Linked DNA regions of Homo sapiens: all the other regions are linked to region 1. Evidence: fine-mapped expression QTL. A gene starts in region 1. Each other region holds a variant in brackets. All regions are shown on one strand. Distances are between the middles of the regions. Region 1 holds the start of ARCN1 (archain 1 coat protein complex I subunit delta). Region 2 has its middle 15 kb from the start of BCL9L. Region 3 overlaps IFT46 (intraflagellar transport 46).

Evidence for each region. PIP is the estimated chance that this variant, and not a neighbour inherited with it, causes the effect.
Region 2: its variant is the best candidate, but not a certain one, in a credible set for the expression of ARCN1 in blood mononuclear cells (TOPMed, PIP 0.56).
Region 3: its variant is the best candidate, but not a certain one, in a credible set for the expression of ARCN1 in whole blood (TOPMed, PIP 0.89).

The regions. Positions count from the first base shown.
Region 1 is chr11:118,569,506-118,575,965 of GRCh38, forward strand. ARCN1 (archain 1 coat protein complex I subunit delta) reads left to right here and starts at 2,904. Exons shown (of 10, transcript NM_001655.5): 1 at 2,904-3,045. The coding sequence starts at 3,043. It also overlaps a transcript of IFT46 not described here. RefSeq lists enhancers at 2,566-2,695, 3,206-3,285.
Region 2 is chr11:118,937,378-118,943,837 of GRCh38, forward strand. No RefSeq gene overlaps it. Among named protein-coding and RNA genes, the nearest start is that of BCL9L, 15 kb to the left of the region's middle. RefSeq lists enhancers at 2,257-3,038, 3,039-3,818. The variant G/A (reference allele first, on the strand shown) is at 3,660.
Region 3 is chr11:118,541,657-118,548,116 of GRCh38, forward strand. IFT46 (intraflagellar transport 46) reads right to left here. Exons shown (of 12, transcript NM_001168618.2): 10 at 4,137-4,197; 11 at 3,753-3,838; 12 at 2,887-3,355. The coding sequence ends at 3,260. It also overlaps a transcript of TMEM25 not described here. Among named protein-coding and RNA genes, the nearest start is that of TMEM25, 14 kb to the left of the region's middle. The variant C/A (reference allele first, on the strand shown) is at 3,112.

The sequences.
Region 1 (6,460 bases):
AATATTTGAGCTTTCTAAAGATTTCTATTAGAAGGCCATTGGAGATGGAATTGATACGGGTAAGAGCAAGAAGTCTATAATGCAGTGCTTAAGGGTATAGTCCAAAGTTGAACAGCCTTTGTTTGAATCCTCGCTTACCTACTTTTTAGCCATGAGACCTGTGGTGGGATAGTTTTCTTCTCTGTACCTTGATTTCCTCATGTGTAAAATGGAGACAATAAAGGTACCTATCTCAGAGGATTCTTGTGAGGATTAAATGAGATAATCTGTGTGAAGTTAGAGTAATGGCTGGTATGCTGTAAGTGTTCAATAAATGTTAGGGAACACACAGGAGATACAGAGGCAGTGTGTTTTAATGGAAAAAGCTGACTTTGTTTTTTTGTTTGTTTGTTTTGAGACTGAGTGTTACTCTGTTGCCCAGTCTGGAGGGCAGTGTTGTGATCTCAACTCACTGCAACCTCCGCCTCCCAGGTTCAACCAATTCTCATGCCTCAGCTTCCCAGATAGCTGGGAGTACAGGCATGAGACACCACGCCCAGCTTTTTTTTTTTTTTTTTTTTTTTGAGACGGAGTCTCCCTCTGTCGCCACGCTGGAGTGCAGTGGCATGATCTCGGCTCACTGCAACCCAACCTCCGCCTCCTAGCTTCAAGGATTCCCCCACCTCAGCCTCCCGAACAGCTGAGACTACAGGCACGCGCCACCATGCCCAGCTAATTTTTTTTTTTTTGTACTCTTAGTAGAGATGGGGTTTCACCATGTTGGCCAGGATGGTCTCGATCTCTTGACCTTGTGATCCGCCCACCTCAGCCTCCCAAAGTGCTGGGATTACAGGCGTGAGCCACCGCGCCCAGCCAGGAGAAAACTGACTTTGAACTTGGCTCTACCACTTACTAGTTGTGTGAGTTTGGACAAATGCTTAACTTTTTTGATCCTCAGTATCTTTATTTGGATTGATGTAAAAGATTGGAAATAACATGTGTAAAGTACCTGACACAAATGAAGCACTCAATTAAAAGTTGCTATTATACTTAATTGTGGACATACAGGTTTAATATGGATGAGTGCTGTTCGGTTGAGCTAAGGATGTAGGATAAAATGATTTAAGGAAGAACTACTGAATCAGCTATACTCTGAAAAATCTGAAATTTGGCATACAAGAAATAACATGAGAATCACAAGAACAGATTTTGAGTCTTGGTTCCATCATATACTGGTTTAGAAACTTTGGGTAAGTCACTTAAACTTTTCACCATTTTCTTCATATACAAAATGGACATGAGCACAACTGCCCTGCTTCCAGTGCATGTTTTTTTAAAGATATAATTTACAAATCATAAAAATTCACCTTTTAAAATTATACAATTTAGTGGTTTTTAGTATATTTGCCTCTATCTAGTTCCAGAACTATTTTTTTTTTAAGAGTCTAAGTCTCACAATTTGCACAGGCTGACCTTTAACCCCTGGTCTCAAGCCATCCTCCCAACTCAGCCTCCCAAGTAGCTGGGACTCTAGGATCATGCCACCATGCCTGGCTTAATTCCAGAATGTTTTAATTATTCCAGAAATAAATCTTACACTAATTAACTGTCACTCTCTATTCCTACCCTTCCTGAGCCCCTGGAAATCACTAAGCTAGTTTCTGTCTCTGTGGATTTTCTTCTATTCTGGATCTTTCGTATTAATGGAATCATATATGAGTGCCCCATTGTATCCGTCTTTTTTCACATAATATTCTCAAGGTTCATCCATATTGTAGCATGTCAGTACTTTATTCCTTTTTGTGACTAAATAATATTCCATTGCATATATATGCCACATCTATTGATGAATGGATTTGTTTGGATTGTCTCCACTTTTTGGCTACTATGAATAATGCTGCTATGAACATTAGAGTACACATTTTTGTGTTGACATATATTCAGTTCTCCTGGGTATGTACCTATGAGTGGAATTGCTCAGTCATGTGGTAATTTTGTTTAACTTTTTGAGGAACTGCCAAACTCTTTTCCAACGTGGCTGCACTATTTTACATTCATCCTCACCAACAATTATTATGATAGCCATCCTAGTGAGTGTGAAATGACGTCTCACCACGGGTCTGATTTCCATTTCCCTAAGGATATTCAACATTTCTTAATGTGCATATTAGCCATTTATATATCTTCTTTGGACACATATCTATTCAAATCTTTTGCTCATTTTAATTTTGTGTTTTCTACTCCCTCCATTTTGCAGATGAAGCCCATTTTTAGACAGGAATACTGTATTTGTCTTTTTATTGCTGAGTTATAAGAGTTCTTAGGCCAGGCGCGGTGGCTGACGCCTGTAATCCCAACATTGGGAGGCTGAGGCGGGCGGATCACTTGGGGTCAGAAGTTTGAGGCTAGCCTGGCCGACATGGTGAAACCCCGTCTCAACTAAAAATACAAAAAACAGCCGAGCGTGGTGTGGCGCGTGCCTGTAATCCCAGCTACTCCGGAGGCTGAGGCAGAAGAATCGCTTGAACCTGGGAAGTGGAGGTTGCAGTGAGCCGAGATCACGCCATTGCACTCCAGCCTGGGCGACAGAGTGAGACTCCATCTCAAAAAAAAAAAAAAAAAGTTCTTTATATATTCCGGATACTGGTCTTTTAGGCACACAGGTTATCCTGTATATTAAATAATAGTGGCTGTGCCAGCGGCTTGTTAAACTGTAAGATGTGACGCAAAATAAATGAAGGCGATGACAGTGAAAGGGGAGAGATACGAGGTTCCACAGCTGGAGGGTGAACGCCCCCTACACCTCCTGGGCTTAATCGTAACCGGAGCGGGGTACCCTCAATTTCCCCAGCCCACAGGCCCCGCCCCCCCCCCCGCCCTTTGACCTGCGCCGCTTCCGGTTGAAGACGTGGCTTGGGGCCGCCATCTTGGCAAGAGGCGAAGCGGCAGCGGTTCCTGTCAAGGGGGCAGCAGGTCCAGAGCTGCTGGTGCTCCCGTTCCCCAGACCCTACCCCTATCCCCAGTGGAGCCGGAGTGCGGGCGCGCCCCACCACCGCCCTCACCATGGTAAGATCCGAGCCAGGACCCGAACTCCTGGGGTCCGAGCCTCACCGTCTCTCCTTGTCGGCGGGCCTGGGGCAGGGGCCGGAGGAGCCCCGCCCTGAGGGTCTAGGGCAGAGTGCTTTTGCTCCGGGCTCGGGGAGCAGTGTGGCCTCCTGTGCCCGGTCTCCTGGAGATCCGATGGAGCTGACTCCAGTCCATCTGTCGTCGTGCCCGCTTCCGCACCACCCCCCAACCAGCTGGACTCCCTCGTTTGCTGGGACCTGCCCCTGAGACGGCCCGGCGTTTTTGCTCTGCGAGAACTTCGTGGTGGTGGTGCGGGTCCCAGGCTGCGGACCTCGGAACTGATGCTGTCCCGCCGGTTCCCTGGCGCTTAGGCTCAGCAGGCTGGGCCTGTCTCCGGAGGTTCTGGTCCTTCTGTTAATCAGAGCTTGTCTCCCACCCCCGGTGTTTGCTAGGCCGTTGATAACTCGAAATGCAAATCCACTGGTGTCCAGAAATTTTTCTTTTTGTTCAGAAGGGGGAAATGGAGACACAGAGCGGAAAGGAGTAACTTCTAACACTAATGTATAGGACCCAAGTGTCTCTGAAACCTTCCACTACTTCCGCAGAACTCACTTGTGTCCATTTGTTAGTGTGACTCGGGGTACATACACTGTGTAGACCACTGGGAAAATGTGAGCAGGTTCCAGAGAACACAGGGTTTGCCTTCAAGGAACTTATTGTCCAGGTGAAGAAAAATGTGTATGTGGCATGTCGTAGTCAGATGTCTCACAGGAGGTGGAGTAAGAGGGATGGGTTAGCCTCCGAGACCAGTTACTTGCCTTCCCATGCGTTATCTTTGTATACTCATCTGTTACAAGGATGAGAAAGGTTAATGTGGTTGAGGATGGAGGAAATCAGAACTGCTGACATCACTCAATCTTCCTTTATCGCTGTGATTTGTGGATATTCATGAAGTAGTAGACATTCTTTGGTTTCAAAAAAGCTAGTAATTTATTTTTCAGTGCACCTTATGTCCTTTAGTCTTTTGAAGGATGTTCTGTTCTGTTCTTTTTTATTCTTTTGTCAATAGATAACTTGATTTAAAACATCGTCCAGTGTACCTGAGAGATGGCAGAATGTAATTTGGTGGCAATCCTAATAAGTTCTATTGACAACCCTTTAGATAAGAACTTGGATAATGGGGGGAATTCATGCTTGGACTTTAGGCCACTGAACAGCTTTTCTCAGCCTCAGGTATATAAATTGCATCAAACAGGTTTGCCTCCTAAAATTTTTGTGTTGGACACAAAATTTCCAGAAACTTGTATTTTCAGTTTCTCCAGGAGGTTCTGTATTTGGTTAGTGATTTTGAAACTCAGTTCCCGTTTACACCCTGGAATTAATAATGCATTTTAGAGCATATTTTTATTTTAATAGTAAAGTTAAGGTCTTGTATTATATAAACCAGATAAAGGTAATCTTTCTAAAAATATTCTTTGTTAAAAGGTTCTTGGAACTTAGTATTTTTAATTCATTGATAACTGAGGGATGGTAAAGCCCTACGTGATATATATAAAATATAACTTTTGCATGCTATTTTGACATGTGTACGTATACATAGAGTTGTGTCACATATTTCTGAATTATTTGGGACTTAACATGATCCAGATACCCACAGATTTGTGTACTCTGGAGAACAATTTATCTCAGTACATTCTGCTCTGTAGAGTGTTAAGACATTGGTATGATTTCTGTGTAATGTTTTTGGGTCCTGCTCCTTTACAAACAGATCCCTGGACAGTAGAAATGTCCAGATAGGGTGAAATTTTTATCTAAAAGTTGTATCAAAATTTCCAGCGTTTATTTTAGCTCAACATTTCATTATGAAATTTTCCAACATCTGGAAAAGTTGAAAGAACTTTGTAGTGAATACCCATATAACCACCAACTAGATTCTATAACTAACATTTCACTATATTTTATCATGCATCTAATCATCCATCCATCCCTCTCTCCATTAAAAAAAAATATACATTTCAAAGTAAGTTGCAGATATCAGTACGTAAACATTGATTTTTTAAAAAATAAATTCCCTTTGGCTTTAGTTATTGAAGTGCAGAATGTCCTAGACTGCAAAGTTCCAATAGATAAATAAGTGAACAAATGCAGAAACAAATGCTTTCTCATGACTTCATCATAAAATAAAGTACAAAGAAAGGCATCTTTTGATTTTTTTTTTTTAAAGAGACAGGGTCTCACTATGTTGCCCAGGCTGGAGGGCAGTAGCTATTCACAGGCGCTATCATAGTGCACTGCGGCCTAGAACTCCTAGCCTCAAGCAATCCTCCCGCCTCCATATCCCAAGTAGCTGGGACTGTAGGCATGCGGGCCTTGATTTGATCTTTTTTTTGTATTCTGCAAATTAATGAGAACATGTTCTGACTTTTTTTCTTGTTTGTTTGGTTTTCGAGACGGATTCTCGCTCTGTCTCCAGGCTGGAGTGCAGTGGCACAATCTCAGCTCACTGCAACTTCTGCCTCCCGGGTTCAAGCTATCCTCCTGCCTCAGCCTCCTGAGTAGCTGGGACTGCAGGCGCCTGCCACCACGCCCAACTACTTTTTTGTATTTTTAGTAGATACGGGGTTTCACCATGTTAGCCAGGATAGTCTCGATCTCCTCACCTCGTGATCTGCCCGCCTCGGCCTCCCAAAGTGCTGGGATTATAGGTGTGAGCCATGGCGCCCGGCCCCTGTATTATTTATGTATCTTTTTAATTGTGTTTTGAGGGACAGCAAAGAAAGAAAATGATTCTCTTGAGTTTCCATTGATTTGCCATCTATTTATGTCTTCATATAGAAGTTCACTGCAGAAACTGATAACGGGTGTGTGTGTGTGTGTGTGTGTGTGTTTTAATTCTCTGCAAGCTTTTGTTTTAGAATAGAAATGTGATGGACTTAAAACCCTCACTGAGTAAATTACTTTTCAAGTTTTAGGTTTCGTATGTGGTCTACATTTTATTGTAATCTTCTCTCTGATTTTATCTATAATAGCTTCATATAAATAGAAAAGACAGAACAGTCCTCCCTGACAATTATAGAAACTAGCCTTAATATGACCATGAATTGTGTGTGCATGTATATGTGTATAAAATATTGCGGTGAATTACAAAGGAGAAGGTGACTATAATTCTGGAAGTAAGGGATCCTGAAGCATTTAGAGATTCAAGAAAGAACTTGACTTTTTTTGAGAGAGAGTTGTGCATATTTATCCTGAATTATTATACCACCTGTTATTCTTGTATCTCTCTTGCACACACAATTTGTTATGGTTAGACAATTTGCCTTCTGGCAGCCTAATGTTACTATAAAATATTGTTCCAAAGTGGTTAGAACTGGAGCAGTGGGTATAAAATGGAAGTATTGTACATTTTCTGTCA
Region 2 (6,460 bases), 370 kb after region 1:
TTTCACTATGTTGGCCAGGCTGGTCTGGAACTCCTGACCTCAAGTCATCTGCCCGCCTCAGCTTCCCAAAGTGCTGGGATTACGGATGTGAGCCACCGCACCCAGCTTGATGTCCCTTTTTCTTTCTCCCTATCCCCTCTGCCCCACCAGTGCTGATGTCTTAGACTGAACTTACTAAAACCCCGGATTCTTTTTCACCTGAACTTCTTCTAAGCCATGTCTGGCCCACTGTGTATTGCTGAGGTCTTACATAGATCTCTGATCACTTTATTCTGTTAGGTTTACCTAACCATTCTATACATGGAGATGATTCTTGGATCCTTATCTTTCAATGTTTACTATCCCTCAAGGGTTATATCTGTGAAATGTGATACTATATTTTCATATAAGCTGTTAATAAAAATATTTAACAGGAAAGAGATGGAGACAAAACCCTAAAGTATGCAAATGTTCTTCCGCTTGGTACCAATCCATGTCACACTGAGAAGTAGCAAGAATAAATGGTTTTGTAGGTGGGATGGAGTCAGATCAAAATGAGCCTCAAAAGAAGAAAATAGAAAGGCTCAGAAGGTTTTTGAGTGAAGAGTGATACAAGGAACAATCTGGTATAGCAAAAAAACAAAACACTAACCCTGGAACTCAACAGATCTGGATCTGATCTACAATTCCAGGTCTATTGCTTATTAGCTGTAGAACTTTGGGCAAATTAACCGCTCTGAGCATCTGTTTCTTCTCCTGTAAAATGCGATAACAACTACCTTAGGATTTATTGTGAAGATTAAAAGAGATAGCATATATGACAAGCCTAGTACATAACAGGTGCTCAATAAATGAAGAAGAAAAATGGGAGGGTGAGGAGGAGGAGAAGAAAGTCATGCTCAGGACAGGCCCAGGTCTAGTAGTGTCTCACTCTATTGCCCAGGCTAGAGTGCAGTGGCACGATCTCGGCTCACTGGAACCTCCACCTCCCGGGTTCAAGTGATTCTCCTGCCTCAGCCTCCTGAATAGCAGGGATTACAGGCATGTGCCACCATGTCCAGGTAATTTTGTATTTTTAGTGGGGGTTTCACCATGTTGGCCAGGCTGGTCTTGAACTCCTGACCTCAAGTCATCCACCCGCCTTGGCCTCCCAAAGTGCTAGAATTACAGGCATGAGCCATGGCACCTGGCCAGGTCTGGTTTCTGAAGAGGGACTACACTTGTGGTAAACCCAAGTGGAAAGTCCACCTCTGAGGCTACTGTGAGGGCCTGAGATGACTCACTGGGGCTGGGGCTTGGTCTAGGATAATATGTATGGAATGGCAAAGGGAAGGAAGCAGATCTGAATGACATTTCCAAAGGAGAATTGATCCACCTTGGACTCAAGTGAGGTGTGGAGGATGACAGAGAGAGGAGTCACACGTAGCACCAAGGTTTTTACTCTGGGTAGTGACAGGGAAGTACGAAGGGGGTGATGGCTTGGGGAAGATGGTTCATGGTTAGTCACTGCATTAGGCATGGCAGTAGGATACCAAGTGGACATGACCAGTGAGGAGGTGAAGCGATTCGATTAGAACTTCAGAGAAAGAGAAGTCAGAGCCAAAGTTATGTTCCTGGGAAGCACCGCATGCCAGTGGTAGCTGCAGGCATTGGGTGAGGTTTCTGAGGGTGAGCTGGGAAGCGAACCAAGGACAGGACCCTGTAGGACACATCCGGAGCCATGACTTAGGGCTGGAGAAGAAACTGCCCCACACTGCTTTCCCTCCCCACCATTCTCTGCCTCCTGGTCAGAGTTGCAAAGATCAACCCAAGCTGACACCCACCCACCCACTGCATCACTGCAGACAGAAATCTGTGCAGAGCCCACTGGAATCGAAACCCTCCAGGACTCTGCTTTTCTGTCCTGATATCAGAAAGGACACAAGTTCTTGTCTAATCAACAGACCCCAGCTTGTTGCTGCAATCGTGCACTTGAAAAGGGAGAGGCAGGAGGGATGCCACAGAGAGAGATGTGGACAGAGGCAGGCAGGGACACCTTCGTGAAGAGCAGGAGAGAAACAGAAGCTGAGGGACAAAGGGGAGGGGAGCGCTGTGAGTACCTCAAAAGGCCGACTGACAGAGGAGGAGAAAAAGAGACTTAAGGAGGGGGCAGGAGAAAAGATTCGCTGGGAAGCTGATGAAGTGCAACTGAGAAAACTGTTGCCATGGTGATGGGTCCAGAGGAGGGAGTAGGAATATAAATCGGATTATGAGTTGGGGGAGTCTGTATGTGCCGAGGGTGTTCAAAACCCAGATGCTGTCCCCCCAACACCAGGCCCTCCCCACGAGATCTTCCACTGCGAGAAGCCTTTCCCAGAGGTCCTCCCCAGGCCAGGCCAAGGAATGCAGTGAGCAGAGGCACTGGAGTGGCCCAGGGCTCAGCATTCCCTCCCCTCCTCCCCCAAAGGCCCCTCAGTGATACAAAAGAGCCCTGCACCCCCACACCAGGTGCCCCTAGCCTCTTGGAGAGTCCTCTGCACAGACCCTCTTCATCAGCATCCCGAGGAGGAGAGGAGGATGTTGTTTTAAGCACCTACTTGCTATGTGGCAAGCAGCGTGTTGGGCACTTCATTCCTTGTTCATTTGGTCCCCACCAGGGCTCTGTGGGGTGGTATTACCACCTCCATTCATAGACAGGAAGCGGGTCCAGGACACAAGCTGGAAGGCCGCAGGCAGAGGGCATGTAATCCTGGCCCATCCGCTCCAAAGCCCATTCTTTTTCTCCTAGCCCTGGCCTGCCTCACATGGCCTGCTTCCCATCCCCTGCTGCCATCTCCTGCACCCTTAGGGCACAGTGGGCATCTCGGGAGCTGCTCAGCGGACAGACTAGGGTGAGGCTCTAACTCCATTCTTGGAGATGAAGGGAACTGGGGAGGCTTGAGGCAAATATGCCACAGCCAGCGAGACTCCAGGCTGGGGAGGAGGTGCAGGGCAGCGCTGAGCTCAGGGCTGGGGAAATGGGGAGGAAGGGCTGAGGTAGAGAGGCCCCGGGGGGTGGGGGGAAGCTCCAAGGCCCAGCCATTTCCGGCAGAGCAGAAACTCCCAGCATGGGCCACGTGGGGAGCTGGGGAAGCTGCAAGTCTCGGAGTGGTGAGGGAGAGCGCTGGGGGTGGGCATTTCCCTGCAGGTCCCTGCAAGTGGAAGTGGCTGGAGGGAGGAAAGAGAGGGGAGCAGTTTCCCTCCTTCGTCTTCCCTCAGGTTTCTGTACAAGTAACAGTTTTGCAAAGGGCACCAGTATCTGATGTGCATATCAAACAGGGCCTGGGGAGGCGGGAGAAGGCCAAGCTCAGGGCTGCGGCCTGGGCAGCTGTGCCAAGACCACCCCCCAACCCCAGGAGGATGGGATAGGATTCCAAAGCATTCCCACCCCTTCCCATCATACCTGGCTGTTCCTTCTGGTGACCATGAAACATCCCCCACTGTTCTCTCAGGGGACCAGCCTGAGCCACACCCCAACTTGGAAGTCCCTGTTGGGGTGGGTGGGGGGTCAGAAATGCCTGGACTCCAAGAGGGGTTAAAGGTCACAATTCTGTTGGGTCCCTTGGCCACTGGGCTGGAGAGGCCAGGTCTCTGCCCCACCTCTCCAAAGGAGGATAGGGCTCCTTCCTCCGAAGGCCTGGAGGGAAGGGCGTCCCAGGATC[G/A]GCTTGCTTTGGTGCTTCATTCATACATTCTCCTCCACCCTCCACCCTCCACCAGCATCCCAGGGAGGCCCTCCTAACCCTATTTCCCTGTGCCCATCAGAGGTTCTTTCAGACAACTAAGAAGGGGGCCCAGCAGGAGCCAAAAAGATCTAAGGAAGTGCATGGGGTGGCGGGGTCGGGGGGTTGGATCCTTCTCTTTCCTCCTCCTGCCCTCCCGAGGCCCTCTGGTCTCTTACCCTTTCACTGAGTCCTAGAACCTCCACACAGCCATTTAGTCCTTCAGCATCCTCTTGCCCAGCTTAGTCCCTCTGATTCGCATGCCCTCCAGTTTGAAGAGATTTCCAGTGACTCCTCCGACTTGCCAAATCCAAGGAGCACATTTCAGCACATCTCTTCGGTTCCCTGTGGTCCTGATGCTGCTCGCTGTGCCTCCCACAAGCATCTTCCTTGGGCACCTGGGATACTGCTCCCTCCTGGCTATTCTTTTTCCTTTTAGGGAAGTTTCTCGGTTTCCTTTGCAGTCTCCTCTTTTCCTTTGCCCATAAATGTTGGGGCTCCCCAGGCTCTGTCCTTCACCTTGTCTTCTCACTCAGCATCCACTTGCTCCTCTCCAAGGCTTCAGCTGTTGCGCCTGTGCTGACCTTTCCTGTGCTCCAGACCACACATCCAGCCACCCTCAACATACCTCCATCCGGGTGTCCTTCAGGCACGTAAATTGGCAAGTTCAAGACCCAAATATCTCCACCCAGCCCCTCGCCACAGCCTGCCCCTCCCACCCCCCACTGTGTTCTCTAGCCCCTGACGGTTCTGTCATCCACCCTGCTGCCCAAACCAGGACCTGGGAGCATCCTCCTTAACTCTGCTCCCCAAACCGCACACAACTGTCCCTGTCAAACCATCACTAGACCCTGTCAATTTTGCCCTCTGCCTAGAGCAGTAGCCTATGCCTATAATCTCAGCACTTTGGAAGGCTGAGGCGGAAGGATCTCTTGAGCTCAGGAGTTCAATACCAGCCTGGGAAGCACATTGACACCCCATCTGTACAAATAAAAAGTTTAAAAAAATAGCAGGGCGCGGTGGCTCATGCCTGTAATCCCAGCACTTTGGGAGGCGAATGCAGGTGGATCACGAGGTCAGGAGTTCAAGACCAGCCTGGCCAACATGGTGAAACCCTGTCTCTACTAAAAAAAAAAAAAAAAAATTAGCTGGGTATGGTGGTGTGTGCCTGTAGTCCCAGCTACTTGGGAGGCTGAGGCAGGAGAATTGCTTGAACCTGGGAGGTGGAGGTTGCAGTGAGCTGAGATCATGCCACTGCACTGTAGCCTGGGCGACAAAGCAAGACTCTGTCTCAAAAAAATAAAAAAATTTTAAAAATTAGCCAGGCATGATGGTGCACATCTATAGTCCCAGCTAACTTGGGAGGCTGACACAGGAGGGTCACTTGAGCCCAAGCTTGAGCTGCAGTGAGCTATGATCATGTCACTAAACTCCATTGTGGGCAACAGTAGAAGACCCTTTCTCAAAAAAAAAAAAAAGCCCTCTCCCCAAATCTCCTCTTCTATCGTTTCTTGCCTAGGATCTGATTTCTTTTTGTTTGTTTTTTTTTTTTTTTGGAGGCAAAGTCTCACTCTGTCACCCTGGCTGCAGGGACATGATGCAGCCTCCGCCTCCCAGGTCCAAGAAATTCTCCTGGCTCAGCTTCCCGAGTAGCTGGGATTACCGGCAGGTGCCACCATGCCTGGCTAACGTTCGTTATTTTTAGTAGAGACGGTTTTGCCATATTGGCCAGGCTGGTCTCAAACTCTTGACCTCAAGGGATCCGCCCAAAGTGCTGGGATTACAGGCACGAGCCACCACGCCAGCCTAGAATCTGATTTTTTTTTTTTTTTTTTTGAGATGGAGTCTCGCTCTGTCGCCCAGGCTGTAGTGCAATGGCGCAATCTCCACTCACTGCAACCTCTGTCTCCCAGGTTCAAGCAATTCTCCTGCCTCAGTCTCCCAAGTAGCTGGGATTACAGGTGCGCACCACCACGCCCAGCTAATTTTTAAAATTTTTTAGTAGAGATGGGATTTCACTATGTTGGTCAGGCTGGTCTCGAACTCCTGACCTCGTGGTCCACCCGCCTCAGCCTCCCAAAGTGCTGGGATTACAGGCGTGAGCCACCGTGCCTGGCCTTAGAATCTGATTTTAACAGCCTTTAAAATGTCTCCCAGCTATCCATCCAACACAATCTCTACATTGCAGCAAGAGCCATCTGTATTCAATACAATGTGATCAGCACACTCTCCAGTTTAAAACCCTTCAAGGGCTTCCTTTTATCCTTAGGATCAAAATTAAAATTCCTTAAAGGGACTGTAAAAGCCTTCCATCTTTTCCCAGCTACTTCTCCAGTGACTTCCCCAAATTCTACTCTGACCCTCCAGCAGACCCATTCTCTGACCTTGTGCCTTTGCAGGTCTCTCAGCCTAGAACAGTCTTCCCTCTTTCTCCCCTCTCTTCACCTTCCTAACTCGGACTTAAATTTTAGGTCTCCACTTAGTTACCACTTCCTCCAGGTAGCTCTTCCACACTACTCAAGCTCGTGTAAGTTGCCCTTTAGTGAGAAGCCTCTCTTTTTTTTTTTTTTTTTTTTTTTTTTTTTGAGGCAGAGTCTCGCTCTGTCGCCCACGCTGGAGTGCGGTGGCGCAATCTCGGCTCACTGCAAGCTCCACCTCCCAGGTTCACGCCATTCTCCTGCCTCAGCCTCCCGAGTAGCGTGGGACTACAGGCACCCGCCACCACGGCCGGCTAATTTTTTGCA
Region 3 (6,460 bases), 28 kb before region 1:
AGCATAGTATCCAATAGGTAGTTTTTCAACCACTCTAGTGGTCCACAGTGTCTGTTCTTCCCATGTTTATGTCCATGTGTGCTCCATGTTTAGCTCTCACTTATTTTTATATATGTTTTAAGACAGGGTCTCATTCTGTCACCCAGGCTGGAGTGCAGTGGCACAATCACGGCTCACTGCAGCCTCGACCTCCCGGGCTTAATCGATCCTCCTACCTCAGCCTCTCGAGTAGCTGGGACCACAGGTGTATACCATCATGCCTGGCTAATTTTGTATTTTTTGTAGAGACGTGGTTTCACTTCGTTCCCCGGCTGGTCTCAAACGTTTGGGCTCAAGCAGTCCTCCGGCTTCAGCCTCCCAAAGTGCTGGGATTACAGGTGTGACTCACTGTGCCTGGCCTTTTTAGCTCCCACTTACAAGTAAGAACATGCACTGTTTGGTTTTTTGTTCCTGCGTTAATTCGCTTAGAATTCTGGGGGCCGGGAAGTACACGGTTGAGGGGTACATCTGGTGAGGGTCTTTTTGCTTGTGGGGACTCTGCAGAATTCTGAGGCAATGCAGAGCATCACATGGCAAGGGGGCTGGACATGCTAAGTCAGGTCTCTCTTCTTATAAAGCCACCAGTCCCACTCCCATGATAAGCCGCCAATGCATTTAATACCCATTAATCTATAAGTGGATTAATCCACTCATCAGGGCAGAGCCCTCGTGACCCAAACACCTCTTAAAGGCCCCACTTCTTGATATGGCCGCATTGAGGATTAAATTTCAACATGAGTTTTGGAGGGGACAAATAGGCAAACAATAGCAAATCATAAATAAATATTGAGGGCCAGGCGCAGTGGCTCATGCCTATAATCCCAGCACTTTGGGAGGCCAAGACCAGAGGATGAGTTGAGGCCAGGAGTTGGAGACCAGCCCGGGCAACATAACAAGAACTTGTCTCTACAAAAAAATATATATATAAAAATTAAGCCTGGGCACAGTGGCTTACTCCTATAATCCCAGCACTTTGGGAGGCCAAGGCAGGCAGATCACCTAAAGGCAGGAATTCAAGACCAGCCTGGGCAACATGGTGAAACCCCTTCTCTACTAAAAATACAAAAATTAGCCAGCCGTGGTGGTGCATGCCTGTAATCCCAGCTACTGGGGAGGCTGAGGCAGGAGAATTGCTTGAACCCAGAAGGCAGAGGCTGCGGTATGCCAAGATCGCACCACTGCACTCCAGCCTCGGTGACAGAGCGAGACTCTGTCTCAAACAAACAAACAAAACAAAACAAAAAACCAAAAATTTGCTGGGTGAGGCTGGGCGCAGTGGCTCATGCCTGTAATCCCAGCACTTTGGGAGGCTGAGGCAGTCGGATCATGAGGTCAGCAGATTGAGACCACCCTGGCTAACACGGTGAAACTCCATCTCTACTGAAAATACAAAACAAATTAGCCGGGTGTAGTGGTGCATGCCTGTAATCCCAGCTACTCGGGAGGCATAGGCAGGAGAATCGCTTGAACCCGGGAGGTGGAGGTTGCTGTAAGCCTCAGTTTTGTCAGCTCAAAGTTTGTCATCAGCTCAAACGTGCCTGCTCCTTAAACTCAAGCATGATGATCATAGTTAAAGGGTTTGTAAGAAACAGTTCCTCTCCTACCCATGTGTTTATTGTGTATCTATTAGGCTGATGGTATCGATTTTGTTTTGTTTTGTTTTTTTAGACAGCACCTCTGCTACCAGCGCCGGCAATGACTACCACCCCTTTGACTTTTATGTTCCTCAGTACCCTCCGTTCTCCCTTTTGCTCCTTCAGCCTCTACAACACTTTTGTAACCAATTTATCATATTATTATATATTTTTTTGAGAAAGAGTTTTGCTCTGTTGCCCAGGCTGGAGTGCAGTGGCGCGATCTTGGCTCGCTGCAACTGCCACCTCCTGGGTTCAAGTGATTCTCCTGTCAGCCTCCCGAGTAGCTGAGATTACAGGTGCCCACCACCACACCCAGCTAATTCTTTGTATTTTTAGTAGAGACAGGGTTTCACCATGTTGGCCAGGCCAGTCTTGAACTGCTGACCTCAAGTGATCCACCCGCCTCAGCCTCCCAAAGTGCTGGGATTACAGGCATGAGCCACTGCACCTGGCCAATTCCCCATATTAAACACCCCCTTTTTTTTTTTTTTTGAGATGCAGTTTTGCTTTGTTGCCCAAGCTGGAGTGCAGTGCCACGATCTTAGCTCACTGTAACCTCCACCTCACGGATTCAAGTGATTCTTCTGCCTCAGTCTCCTGACTAGCTGGGACTACAGGCATGCACCAAAACACCCGGCTAACTTTTGTATTATTAGTAGAGGTGGGGTTTCACCATATTATTGGCCAGGCTGGTCTCGAACTCCTGACCACATGATCTGCCTGCCTGGGCCTCCCAAAGTTCTGGGATTACAGGCGTGAGCCACTGTGCCTGGCTAAACACCCTTTGTTAGAAATAACTAGCATGGTTTCAGACTTCCTGACTGGAGCTTGGCTGACATAACTCCAAAATATTTACTGAATCTGTCCATCTCTACTACTGCCACCCCAATCACCTCTCACCTGGATTACCGCAATAGCTACGCTCCCTGAGACCAGAACCAGACAGGTCTGGAGCCAGACAGCCTCAGGAAGGCGGCATTAACTGAAGAGAGACCCTTAGAAAAATTAAATTCCAGAGGAAAAATGATTCCCCTCGACTGCCAATCTTGGAGGATTGGGGTTTCATTTTATTTCACAAAATTTGTTTGCTTTAACTACTCTTCATTTAATGCCCATTACTAAGCAAAGTTCCTGTGTCTCTGCGTTATGCTCAGTCAGCCTTTTCTCTTTCATATTAAATAGCAGAATAATCTGACAATATAATAGAGCATTTGATTTATAAAATCTTTACTCACTAACTTTACGAATGAAAGAAAACAATTCCATCCCTCTCACAAAAAGGACATCTTTTAAGCTTTCCTCCCAATCTAACCTCCATGGGATCTCAGAAATTCCAATTCTTATAACTCAAATCCCCACAGTGGTGTAGATGCATTAACTCCCCGGGGACAGCAATCTGAGGCAGGCAGGTTCATTAAACAAACATGTTCTGTGC[C/A]CTCTGGCAGAGAGGGCAGCAGGACATGCACTGCCCCTGAGCCAAGCTGTGGCATGGGCAAGGACATCAAGTAGCTGACAACGATCTGTCCATCTCAGCTGGGGCAGAGGGGCCAGCTCAGCCTTGAAACAGCAGCTTGGGAAGTGTCTCAGCTGAAGGTTAATGTCTCCATGTCTCCAGCTTGGGAGGTGGAATTGGATGAAGGAGTGAATGCTTTCTTGCCTTCAGCGAGAGCTTTAAAATGCTGCAAGGAAGAGGAGAGGGAATATTGAGTATTAGGGATATGCTAATTGCTATATTTTAACAAGAATTAATTTCTTTAAAATGAACCCCCTTTATTTCCTTCCTGCTTCCATTCATGAGGGAACTTGGTTCTGAAAGAACGAGTGTCCTCTGTAGATCCTCACCTGATTTCATCTAAGGCCCACAACTCCTACTTCCACCCACCCTTTTTTTTCCTCCACTTTCCCCTTGAAAACTCCATCCCTGCCTCCTTTGCTCTCCTAATTATGGGAAAGGGCGAAGGTAACTGGGCAGAGACATCCTACATCGCTATAGGATGCAATCACAGCAGGCTCAGAACAGTAGAAACTATAGTGATCCTCTCTACAGCTTAAGTCAACCCCTGATGCTTGGCTCACCTGTGAGTTCTTGAATTCTGAGTAGAGGGAAAAGAGCAGATGGAGGGACTGGATCCGACTCTTGTAGACAGGGATGTCTAGAATGGCTGAAACGAAGAAGAACTTCCAGGAACAGAAGCAAACAAACTCCGGGAATTAGAGGCCCTTCTGTCTAGCACAGGCAAAGCCCTGGCAGATGGGGTGTCGCTATGACTTTGGGGGTTAAATACCCAGCAGGTAGTCACATAAGCCAAACACCACCTTTGAGTGCTGCCAAAGAGCACAACGGGCTTAAAGTGAAGGCTGAAACTCAAGATACTATCTTCCCAGAGTAAACAAGCCTGTCCAAAAGCCTAGAGTGTCTCTATCCAGAGATGGGGACGAGGAAAGGAAAGAGGAACTCACCACAGATCATGTCAATGTACTCTGCCAGGCTGCAATCAATCTCTGCCGTGGGCAGGCTTACCTGGAAGGGGCATGGAAGGACCAAAGTCAAAAGGATGGTGTCAGTGGTCCCAGAACCACTCTCTCTCTCTGAAGCAAAAGAGCTTCTAGCATAAGACACAGGTTATGGGCTGAAATGTGTTCCCCTAAAATTCAGATATTGAGTTCCTAACTCCCTGTACTTCAGAATGTGACTATATTTGGAGATAACATCTTTAAAGAGATAATTAAATTAAAACAAGGTCATTAGGGTGGGCCTTAATCCAGTATGACTGGTGTCCTTATAGGAAGAAGAAATCAGGACAAAGACGCATAACAGAGGGAAGACCATGGGAAGACACAGAAGATGGCCAAGAAGAGACCCCTCAGAAGAAATCAATCTTGGTGGGGCGTGGTGGCTTCACGCCTGTAATACCAGCACTGTGGGAGGTTGAGGTGGGCAGATCGCCTGAGCCTAGGAGTTCGAGACCAGCCTGGGCAACATGGTGAAATTCCATCTCTACAAAAAAATTAGCCGGGTGTGGTGTTGAGTATCTGTAGTCCCAGCTACTTGGGAGGCTGGGGTGGGAGGACTGCTTGAGTCCAGCAGGTTGAGGCTGCAGTGAGCTGAGATTGAGCTACTGCACTCCAGCCTGGGCATAGAGTAATACCCTGTAAAAAAAAAGGAAGGAAGGGAGGGAGGGAATCAACCATGCCAACAAATTGATCTTGGACTACTACTGGACTACTAGCCTCCAGAACTATGAAATAATACATTTCTGATGTCTAAGCCACTCAGTCTATGGTACTTTGTTATGGCAGCCTAGCAAAATAATACAACATGCTATTTTTTCCCCCGATCAGTATGGAATTGGTCATATGTTTTATAGGTAAAATACACTGCCATACTCTTTTCCTGTGGGAATCTGTGAAAAAGAAACTGATACCAAGTTATGGGCAAGTATTAACAGTTATATATGCATTACTTGGTGTTATAATGCCTAATGATTCCAGGACACCATATGAACAGAGAAAATGGGCATGACATCTAACTCAGGTAACAGGCTCTGGATCTAAACAAGTCACAGTGTGAAGTTTTTAAACTACTGGTTTCTTAAAACTTTTCTCTTTTTACAAAAAACAGAGTACATATAGTTCTGCAACTTGCTGCAATTTGCTTTTTTCATTTAACAACATATCACTGATATTTCTTCATATTAGAGCAAAATAAGGCCAAATAATATTCCATTGCATAGTATTTCACTGAATGGATGTACTGCAACCTAGCTATTCAATCCCCTAATCAGACACCTTCCCCTCAACTACAGCTTCAAAATGCTCTGAGGAAAGAGACTGTTTCCAAATTCTGTGTGTTTACAATCAATTCTTCATATACAAAAAAAATCTGTCTTTGTAGAGCTTACATTTTAGTAGGGAAGAACAAAATAAGTAAATAAAGTCTATGGTATGTTAGAAGATAAGTGTTATCAAGAAAAAGCAGGGACAGAGGGCGGGGAATGCTGGGGAGCTGGTGCAGCAGTTTAAACATGATGGCTAGGAAGGACCTGTTGGTCATCTTTGTTCAGTTTCCTTTTCTGTTTTGATACTTTAAAAAAATTCTTTTTTGAGACGGAGTCTTGCTCTGTTGCCCAGACTGGAGTGCAGTGGCATGATCTTGGCTCTCTGCAACCTCCACTTCCTGGATTCAAGCAATTCTCCTGTCTCAGCCTCCTGAGTAGCTGGGATTACAGATGTGCGCCACCAGGCCCGGCTAATTTTTTTGTGTTTTCAATAGAGACAGGGGTCTCACCATGTTGGCCAGGCTGGTCTCAAACTCCAGACCTCAGGTGATCCACCTGCCTCAGCCTCCCAAAGTGCTGGGATTACAGGCATGAGCCACCGTGTCCAGCTCCTTTTACTTTTCTTTTCTTTTCTTTTTTTTTTTTTTTTTTTTGAGACAGAGTCTCACTCTTTCGCCCAGGCTGGAGTGTAGTGGCGCTATCTTGGCTCACTACAATCTCCGTCTCCCGGGTTCACGCCATTCTCCTGCCTCAGCCTCCCAAGTAGCTGGGACTATAGGCGCCCGCCACAGCGCCCGGCTAATTTTTTGTATTTTTAGTAGAGACGGGGTTTCACCATGTTAGCCAGGATGGTCTCGATCTCCTGACTTCGTGATCCGCCCGCCTCGGCCTCCCAAAGTGCTGGGATTACAGGCGTGAGCCACCACGCCCAGCCTTTTTTTTTTTTTTTTTTAATAGAGAAGAGTCTCTTATTGTTGCCCAGGCTGGTCCTGAACTCCTGGCCTC